Regions from separate parts of the Homo sapiens genome. Here region 2 is reported to be linked to region 1. The links are microRNA targets in miRTarBase. Many come from high-throughput screens and were not tested one by one. Region 1 holds a microRNA gene; the other region holds the end of a gene's coding sequence.

The links. Region 1 holds the annotated microRNA hsa-miR-597-5p (UGUGUCACUCGAUGACCACUGU, at 1,461-1,482, shown strand). A microRNA usually pairs through its seed, bases 2 to 8, with sites in the 3' UTR of a target mRNA and lowers its output. Matches are read on the target gene's strand: a 7mer-m8 pairs with bases 2 to 8, a 7mer-A1 pairs with bases 2 to 7 and ends in A, and an 8mer does both.
Region 2: the mRNA of EMCN is a reported target of hsa-miR-597-5p. The part of its 3' UTR that is shown has no 7-base or 8-base seed match.

What each region holds. Positions count from the first base shown.
Region 1 is chr8:9,740,227-9,744,377 of GRCh38, forward strand. It overlaps MIR597 (microRNA 597), which reads left to right and starts at 1,446; the gene lies at 1,446-1,542. The region is part of intron 17 of TNKS (tankyrase); the gene reads left to right.
Region 2 is chr4:100,406,786-100,410,785 of GRCh38, forward strand. EMCN (endomucin) reads right to left here. Exons shown (of 12, transcript NM_016242.4): 11 at 3,497-3,570. The coding sequence ends at 3,536. Among named protein-coding and RNA genes, the nearest start is that of SNORA101A, 14 kb to the left of the region's middle.

The sequences.
Region 1 (4,151 bases):
GAATGCTCATGTGCTTGACAGTTCATCCACTTAATCCCTTCTTGACTGTAAAAACCCACAGATGCCAGTTCATACGTACCAGGTGTTCTCACAGTTGGAATCACTCTTGATAGAAGGTGGTTTCTAGATTTGCAAAAGCCTGACAAACTATAAATAAAAACCAAACCAACCCAACCACCTTGATTACCATATTCTTCCTCCTACCGCCTTCTCCCTGGCCCTTTGTAATGAGACTGTCGTCTCTCAGACCCATTTTACAAAGACCTGTATTTCAGAGAGAGGACAAATCTGAGTGAGGATACTTTTAAGGAAAGCAACAATCCGGTTTTTTGAAAGAAAACTATGCTTCCAAGTATGATATAAATTAATTGAAAGTATCATATTTAATGAGTGTTAGTACTGAAATCCTCTTGAAACTACAGTATTTAAAGTTACCTTTCTAAAGATGAGTAGTCTTTTATTAAAATTCGTAGAAATTTTAACCTTCCTTCACATAAGGTTCTCAATTTCTCTGAGCAACAAATACTTCTACCAAAGACTTAGCATGCTAAATATTTGCTGCTAACATACTACATATACATTTATATGTAATTCTTGTTGTTTTTTTTTTTTTTTTTTTTGAGAACAGGTCGGACTGCAGTGGCGCTATCTCAGCTCACTGCAAGCTCCGCCTCCCGGGTTCACGCCATTCTCCTGCCTCAGCCTCCCGAGTAGCTGGAACTACAGGCGCCTGCCACCACGCCCAGCTAATTTTTTTTGTATTTTTAGTAGAGACGGGGTTTCACCGTGTCAGCCGAGATGATCTCTATCTCCTGACCTCGTGATCCGCCTGCCTCGGCCTCCCGAAGTGCTGGGATTACAGGCGTGAGCCACCACGCCCGGCCTACATGTAATTCTTGACCCTTAAGTTATAACTTACACATGTATATCATTTGGAGACAAATTTTCAGCACTTCTTAGCATAATTGTTCTCTTCATATGGTTTTCTACTAATCCTTTTGCTAAGCTTCAGTTAAGGGTTTATAAAGCCAATGGGATCGGTAGAACTGAAATTAGATCTTTTATCGTCTCTGTAAACTTACTATGAGTAGGGACAGATGGTGGCCATAGAATTATAATAATGAACTGATCTAGTAAGGCTTATGTTACACTGTCAACTGTGTAGACTACAGTAGATCCCATACATTGTGGATGTAAGGAAGTTCTACTCCATTAGCCTTCACCTTTCACAGTCTTTATAGCAGTCACGGAGGATAAGGAAAAGAAAAATTAATTTATAAAGTATTTTACCTTTTGATCCTCATTCTTCTCATGGGATAGCGTTAAGATGTGTTCTACTGCATTAGTCTTCACCTTGCACAGTCTTTATAGCTGTCACAGAGGATAAAGGAAAGTTAATTTATAAACTAAGTATTTTACCTTTTGATCCCCATCAGTTAAGATGTTACTTACTCTACGTGTGTGTCACTCGATGACCACTGTGAAGACAGTAAAATGTACAGTGGTTCTCTTGTGGCTCAAGCGTAATGTAGAGTACTGGTCGACCTTGTCTAACTTCACGTTCCCTTGAGGCTGACTTGCTGTCACCTGAAGAGAGGTGTAATGCAATCGGTCTCCTGACCGGAAGTCCACTCTTTCATTTTCATAAACTTTATTCACCATCACCCATAACTCCCCTTCTCCTTTTCTAACTCCAAGTAAGAAAAAATAATGAACACTTTTTTTCACTATCTCTTTTTATGGTATCCTCTTTTTATGTTTGTTAAATCCCTACTACTTAGCTCTTTGTAAATGAAGGTAACTTACTGAGGTGAGAATGATCAAAAAATTCTCCAGGCCTTGTAAAGGGCATTTGATAGAGGTTTTGATCAACCTGGTTCATCTCATCCTTGTATGGAAGAATGCAAATGGGCTACATAATGTGTTTATAGCAGGTATTTTTACCTCATTGTGAGGGTGGATTGAGTCACTCAAAAATTTTTTTCATGTATTAAACTTGTAAATTTAAAAATCAGGCATCCGTGAGTTGATGACTGTTACTTTTTTTTGGCAAACTTTGACTCTGGTGATTTCTAGACCTTTTTTTAATTACCTTTTTTTTTTTTTGGTCAGATACATGAGTGTGATAATACCTTTTTTTTGTTTTTTAACATGGGCAACCCACTTCCCTCAGCAATCTCGCATGACATACAGTGACTCTCAGTTGGTATTTTCCCTGTTCACGATCTCTGCTCCGCAAAATAATTTTATTTTATGCCACTTGTAAAACCTATAATCTATTATTAGTAACCAATCAGTAACCATATTAAGTAGTATTTCTCTTAATCTCAATTAATAGACTTAAAGTAAGGCTAGGCATGGTGGCTCACTTCTGCAATCTCAGCACGTTGGGAGGCTGAGACAGCAACATGGTTTAAGGCCAGGAGTTTGAGACCAGCCTGGGCGACATAGTGAGACCCTATCTCTATATAATTATTTATAAATAAATATTTAATAAATATTTATTTAAAATATAATGAATTAAATTAAGAAGTATTTATTAGTACTCCTTAAATATATATACTTATATATTTAAGGATATACATGTATATCCTTATATTTAAGGAGTAATAAATACATACATTTATATATTTAAGGAGTACTAATATTAACACAATATAAAAAGTTTAAAAAGCTACTTTGTCTCCCCTTAAGAGTAGATACAACTGTGTTCTATTATTTGTAGATTGATAAATCTGTGTATCTTTCAAAAGTTCCTTTTTATTCATTCTATCCTGCCTTGGCTGGATATTTTAATGAAATCATAGGACTCCAGTCTACATTTCTATTAGGATAGAAAAACACTGATTATGTTGTATTCGTCCCATGAATTTGATGATGCTTGAACTAGCCTGGCCACATATCATTTTGTGGAGTAGATTTTCTGTGGCATATCATCTGGAATACAGCTTCTATTCTGAAAATCAAGCAATTTATAGAGCAACTGTAGGTATAGTGTTACCCAGTGATCTCTACTTAAATCATTTCTTCTTCCTAATATTATCTCTTTCCCATTTTCAGCTTGGAAGGAAAATGGCTCTTGTGTTTTAGTCTAGCAAACTCTGCAGGCACCTGTGGTTTAATGGAAAAACCTGAACTTAGGGTCTGAATATCTGGGATCTAGTCTTTCCTCTTCTGTTTTATAACCCAGTAGTCTTCAGCAAGTGTCTAACTTTTTCTCATCTTTGGTTTTCTCAGTAGTAAAAGTTGGATTCCAAGACCTCCTTTCCAGCTTGTTGTAATGATTAAATGAGACCATGCATGTGGAAATTGCATTAACTAATGTAAGGCATTATAAAAATGCAAGGTAATACTGTTATTATAAAATAACTTGCTTCATGGCCGGGTGCAATGGCTCATGCCTATAATCCCAGCACTTTGGGAGGCTGAGGCGGGAGGATCTTTCAAGCCCAAGAGTTCAAGACCGGCCTAGGCAACATAGCGAGACCCCATTTCTACCAAAAAATACATATCCATATCTATAGATGTATAGATATTAAAAATTAGTAAATTCCTTGCTTCCCACAGTTCCTGTACTAAGCCAGTCAGAATAAGGGCTGCATGTCACTCCTACATTTCACAGCCTTAGGAATAATCTATATATTTGACTGGCTCAGTGCTGTGTTAAATAAACACAGATTAATTGACTAGGCTGAGGATGAAATAATAATCTGAGGTAGCTGTGAAATTACATAGTTATTTACTTATGTAGTTATTTATTGATCATTATTCCTTCATACTTATTTACTTTTTTCCCCTAGAGAGCTCAATCTGCTCTGTGTGTGTCTTTGAGCCTTTTTTGTATAAAAAGAACCTCAGTTTTTCCAAATGGAGAAAAAAATACATATTTATTTAAGAAGCATCAATAAAAATTACAAGTTGCATGAGAGTTGATATTAGTGGTAGTGTGCCTTACTGTGTCGGTGTTCTTTATATAATAATGCCTTGTGTTATATTTGAATACATGTTTATACAAGACAGTTAACTTTTCTGCTAAGTCAGTAAATGGCATTGATACTTATTACCACAAAGCATGTAAATTTATATCTTATAAGAGTAAATCAATTGACTGATTCATTTTCTCTCAACTGTTTTTATTTTCCAGTGCTTTC
Region 2 (4,000 bases), not on the chromosome of region 1:
TTAGTAATCTGTCTTGATGATCTCTCCAATATCATCAGTGGGGTGTTGAAATCTACTATTATTGTGTGGTTACCTATGTCTCTTTGTAAGACTAAAAGAATTTGTTTTATAAATCCAGGTGCTGTAGTATTGGGTGCATATATTTAGGATAGTTAAGTCTTCTTGTTGAGTTGAACCCTTTATCACTTCCTTTCTTTGTCCTTTTTGATCATTTTTGGTTTAAAGTCTGTTTTGTCTGAAATAAGAATAGCAACCCCTGCTCTTTTTTGTTTGTTTTCTATTTGCTTGATAAATCTTTCTCCATCCCTTTACTCTGAGCCTATAGGTGTCCTTGAATGTGAGATTGGTCTCTTAAAGACAGCATACACTTGGGTCTTTCTTCTTTAATCAATTTGCCACTTTATGCCTTTTAAGTGGAGTGTTTAGCCCACTACCATTCAAGGTTAATATTAATATGTGTGGATTTGATCCTGTCATTCTGTTGTTACCTGGCGTTACGTAGACATGATTGTGTTTTTGCTTTATAGCATCAATGGTGTATGAACTTTAGTGTGTTTTTGTAGTAGCCAGTAATGGTCTTTCATTTCCATATTCAGCACTCCCTATGAACCTCTTGAAAAGCAGGTCTGGTGGTAATGAATTCCCTTAGTATTTGCTTGTCTGAAAAGGATTTTATTTCTCCTTTGCTTATGAGGTCTAGTTTGGCTGGATATGAAATTCTTTGTTGGAATTTCTTTTCTTTAAGGATGCTGAATATAGGCCCCCAGTCTCTTCTGGCTTGTAGAGTTTTGGCTGAAAGGTCCAGTGTTATCCACTGCTGTGGTTCCCTTTGTAGGTTGACCTGCTCATTCTCCCTAGCTACCTTTAATAGTTTTCTTTTCACATTGACCTTGGAGGATCTGATGACTATGTGTCTTGGGGATGGTTGTATTATATAGTATCTTGCTGGGGTTCTCTGAATTTCCTGAATTTGAATATCAACCTCTCTAGCTAAGTTGGGGACATTTTCATGGACAATATCCTCAAACATGTTTTCCAAATTGCTTGCTTTCTTTCCCTGTCTTTCAGGGATGCCAATGGGTCATAAGTTTTGTCTTTTTACATAATCTCATGTTTCTTGGAGATTTGTTCATTTTTGAAAATTCTATTTTCTTTATTTTTATCTGACTGTTAATGTGAAGAACTAGTCTTTGAGTTCTGAGATTCTTTACTTGACTTGGTCTACTCTGCTGTTAATACTTCCAATGTGTTATGAAATTCTTGTGGTGAGTTTTTCAGCTCTGTCAGATCAGTTTTGTTCTTTCTTAAAATGGCTATTTCATATTTCATTCCTTGTATGGTTTTGTTGAATTCCTCAGATTCCTCGGAATGGGTTTCAATCTTCTGATTTTCAGTGATCTTCATTGCCATCCAGATTCTGAATTCTATTTCTGTAATTTCATCCATTTTATTCTGGTTAAGAATCACTGCAGAGCAGCTAGTTCAGTCATTTGGAGGTAAGGAGGCAATCTGGCTTTTAGAGTTTCAGGAGTTCTTGAGCTGGTTCTTTCTCACCTATGTGGACTGATGTTTCTTTAATTGCAGTGTAATTTGAGTATAGTCAGTCGGTTTCATTTCTGTATGTGTTCAGAGGGCTGAGGCTTTGTGCAGGGTCTTTATTTGCAGTTGAGTTCTTGTCCTTGGTTTTACAGAGGAGTATATTACCAAAGTATTTTTGGTGTTGAAGTTTGGTTTGCAATTTAATAGATAGTGCTTAAACATAATGACTGGTAGATAGGCTCTTACCCAGCCATGCAGCCCCTCTGTGTTTCCTCACATTTGTAGCCATGCTTCCCCTCAGTGCTCTGAGAGTGTGTGATCCTCTCCCACTCAAGTGCTGGTCATAGATCTCAGCTTAGCACTCCCAGACTGTGCACTGCAGGCCTGAGACAAGCTTAGGATTTTTTCTCTCTCCCCAGCTTGGTGGCAGCAGGGGCAGGGACCTTGGCATGCCACTCAGAGCCACTGCCAATTAGAATAATCAGCTGGGGAAAGGTGGTTGCATTGCAGGCCCAAGCTAGGGGCTCATGACTGGTGAAGAGCAGGAGGGCAGGGGAAGGCAGTCTTGCCTCTTTTCCATAGGGCACTGCAGCATGCTGGAGGTGCACAAATTCCAAGATTCCTAATCCATCCCTAATTACTGGCTAGAGAGGGATAAAATTCTGATACTGACACATATGTTTGGATGGCACTCCTCTGTCTCTGTCTTCTGCTACTGGTCAGACAAGCACAGCAGGTACCATTTATTCTACAAGAAATTTCTGAGTGTCTGTAACAGAACAGTGTTAGTTAATTAGGGATTAGACATAGGCCATGAATAACAATATTTCTCATCGTGGACACTTTACCTAGAGTGACTATCATTGTGGTCAGGCCAATTCTGGACACGTATTTATTTTATTTTATTTTATTTTTTATTGTTAGTTGCCGAAAGGTAGATTCTTCTGCAAGTTTTATAAAACCTCAAAAACTAAGTGACAGCACTTAATCAATACTTCTTGTAACAATTAAATTAAAGTCAGAAGAGCATTTCCTTACTTAGTTCTAGGAAAGTAAAAGTCAATCCCATACCAACTGGGAGACTTAATTCCAAAGCAGGTTTAACGTTGGCCTGAGCTGTTTACTAAAATAAGAAACGTACCTGCCTTGAGCTTACTCCTGGTCATGACATGGAACATACTTTTGAGAAATTTCCATTTTTTATTGATTCACAATTATTGTAGTAAGATTGATCATTTGTATCTGGTTTTGTCAAGATACCTGGAGGGCTCTGTTGCTTGGCTGGTTACACAGCAAGACTATGTCTACATGACCAGCTGAGTAAAAGGAAACCTGGCTGAAACTGAATTTTAGATCATCTTGTTTGAGGTGTTTTTTTCCACACATCCATGGTTTCTGGACCCAGAGAGAAAAATATAAGGACCATATTCTGGTATGGTCCTTATAGAGAGAGGGCAATTAGACCCTTCAACTAGCTTCTCTGAACCCATTTCCCTGAGCCAGCCTACGGCTGTGATACACATCTTTACTTTAATGCAGTTTCTATATTTTATCATTTTCTTGCAATAAACTGCAAATTTGCAAGCACCGTCACTTGGATTCTGCCAGTCTTTGTCAGCAACAGAAGCCTGTCTAAGTGCCACAGTTAGTGTGTGCTTACTGACCTAGGTAGGCAGACTGAATTTACAAGGAAACATTAACAACAGGCAGAAAGAGCAAATTGTGTCATTCCTTAGACAGGCAAGAGAATTGGACAAATCGTCTACAACCACCAGGTCATTCATTTTTTGGCAATTTTTGTTAGAGTTTGTTTTTAGACAAATAGACAATGATCATTGCATTGACACAAACCATTAGCTTTCCAGCTTTTGAAATTCTTTAAAAACAATCTAAGCTGCACCAGGCTAACAAAACAGATATTAATGATTGTCTCCGTGAATGAAATTGGGAAACTTACGTAATTATTGCCTAGGTGTGGAGAGAATTCCTCAAGCTGTCAGTTCTTGGTTTTTCCTTGTGCAGAGTGCTCACCTGAGAACAGAAGATATGTTTTGATCTGTAAGCTCAGAGACTGAGTAAGGATGAAAATAAAGTTTCCTAGCTTTTTTCTATTTTTCAAGGAAAGTTCAACTTTCCTGCAAGAATGTCATTAAAGCCACCATTTGCCTCTTGGTATTGTCTAGAAATTAGTCACCAAAATATATGAACTTTTCCCAGACATCATCTGTTTTCACTTTAAAGTAGCAATATGAAGTCCTGGGTGGGATAGGTCAGGGGGCAGTGGGGGCGGGGATGTGAGTTGGGAGATGATAACATTAGAGAAACCCTGGGGAATAAGTATTGATTTTTGCTTGTTACATGAGCTGGCTGTGCCTAAGCAAGCCCATGTCATGTGTTTAAAGTGCCATTTTATCAGGAAGACATTCTAGGGTCCTTCTGTTTAAATAATTCAGTGAGGGTT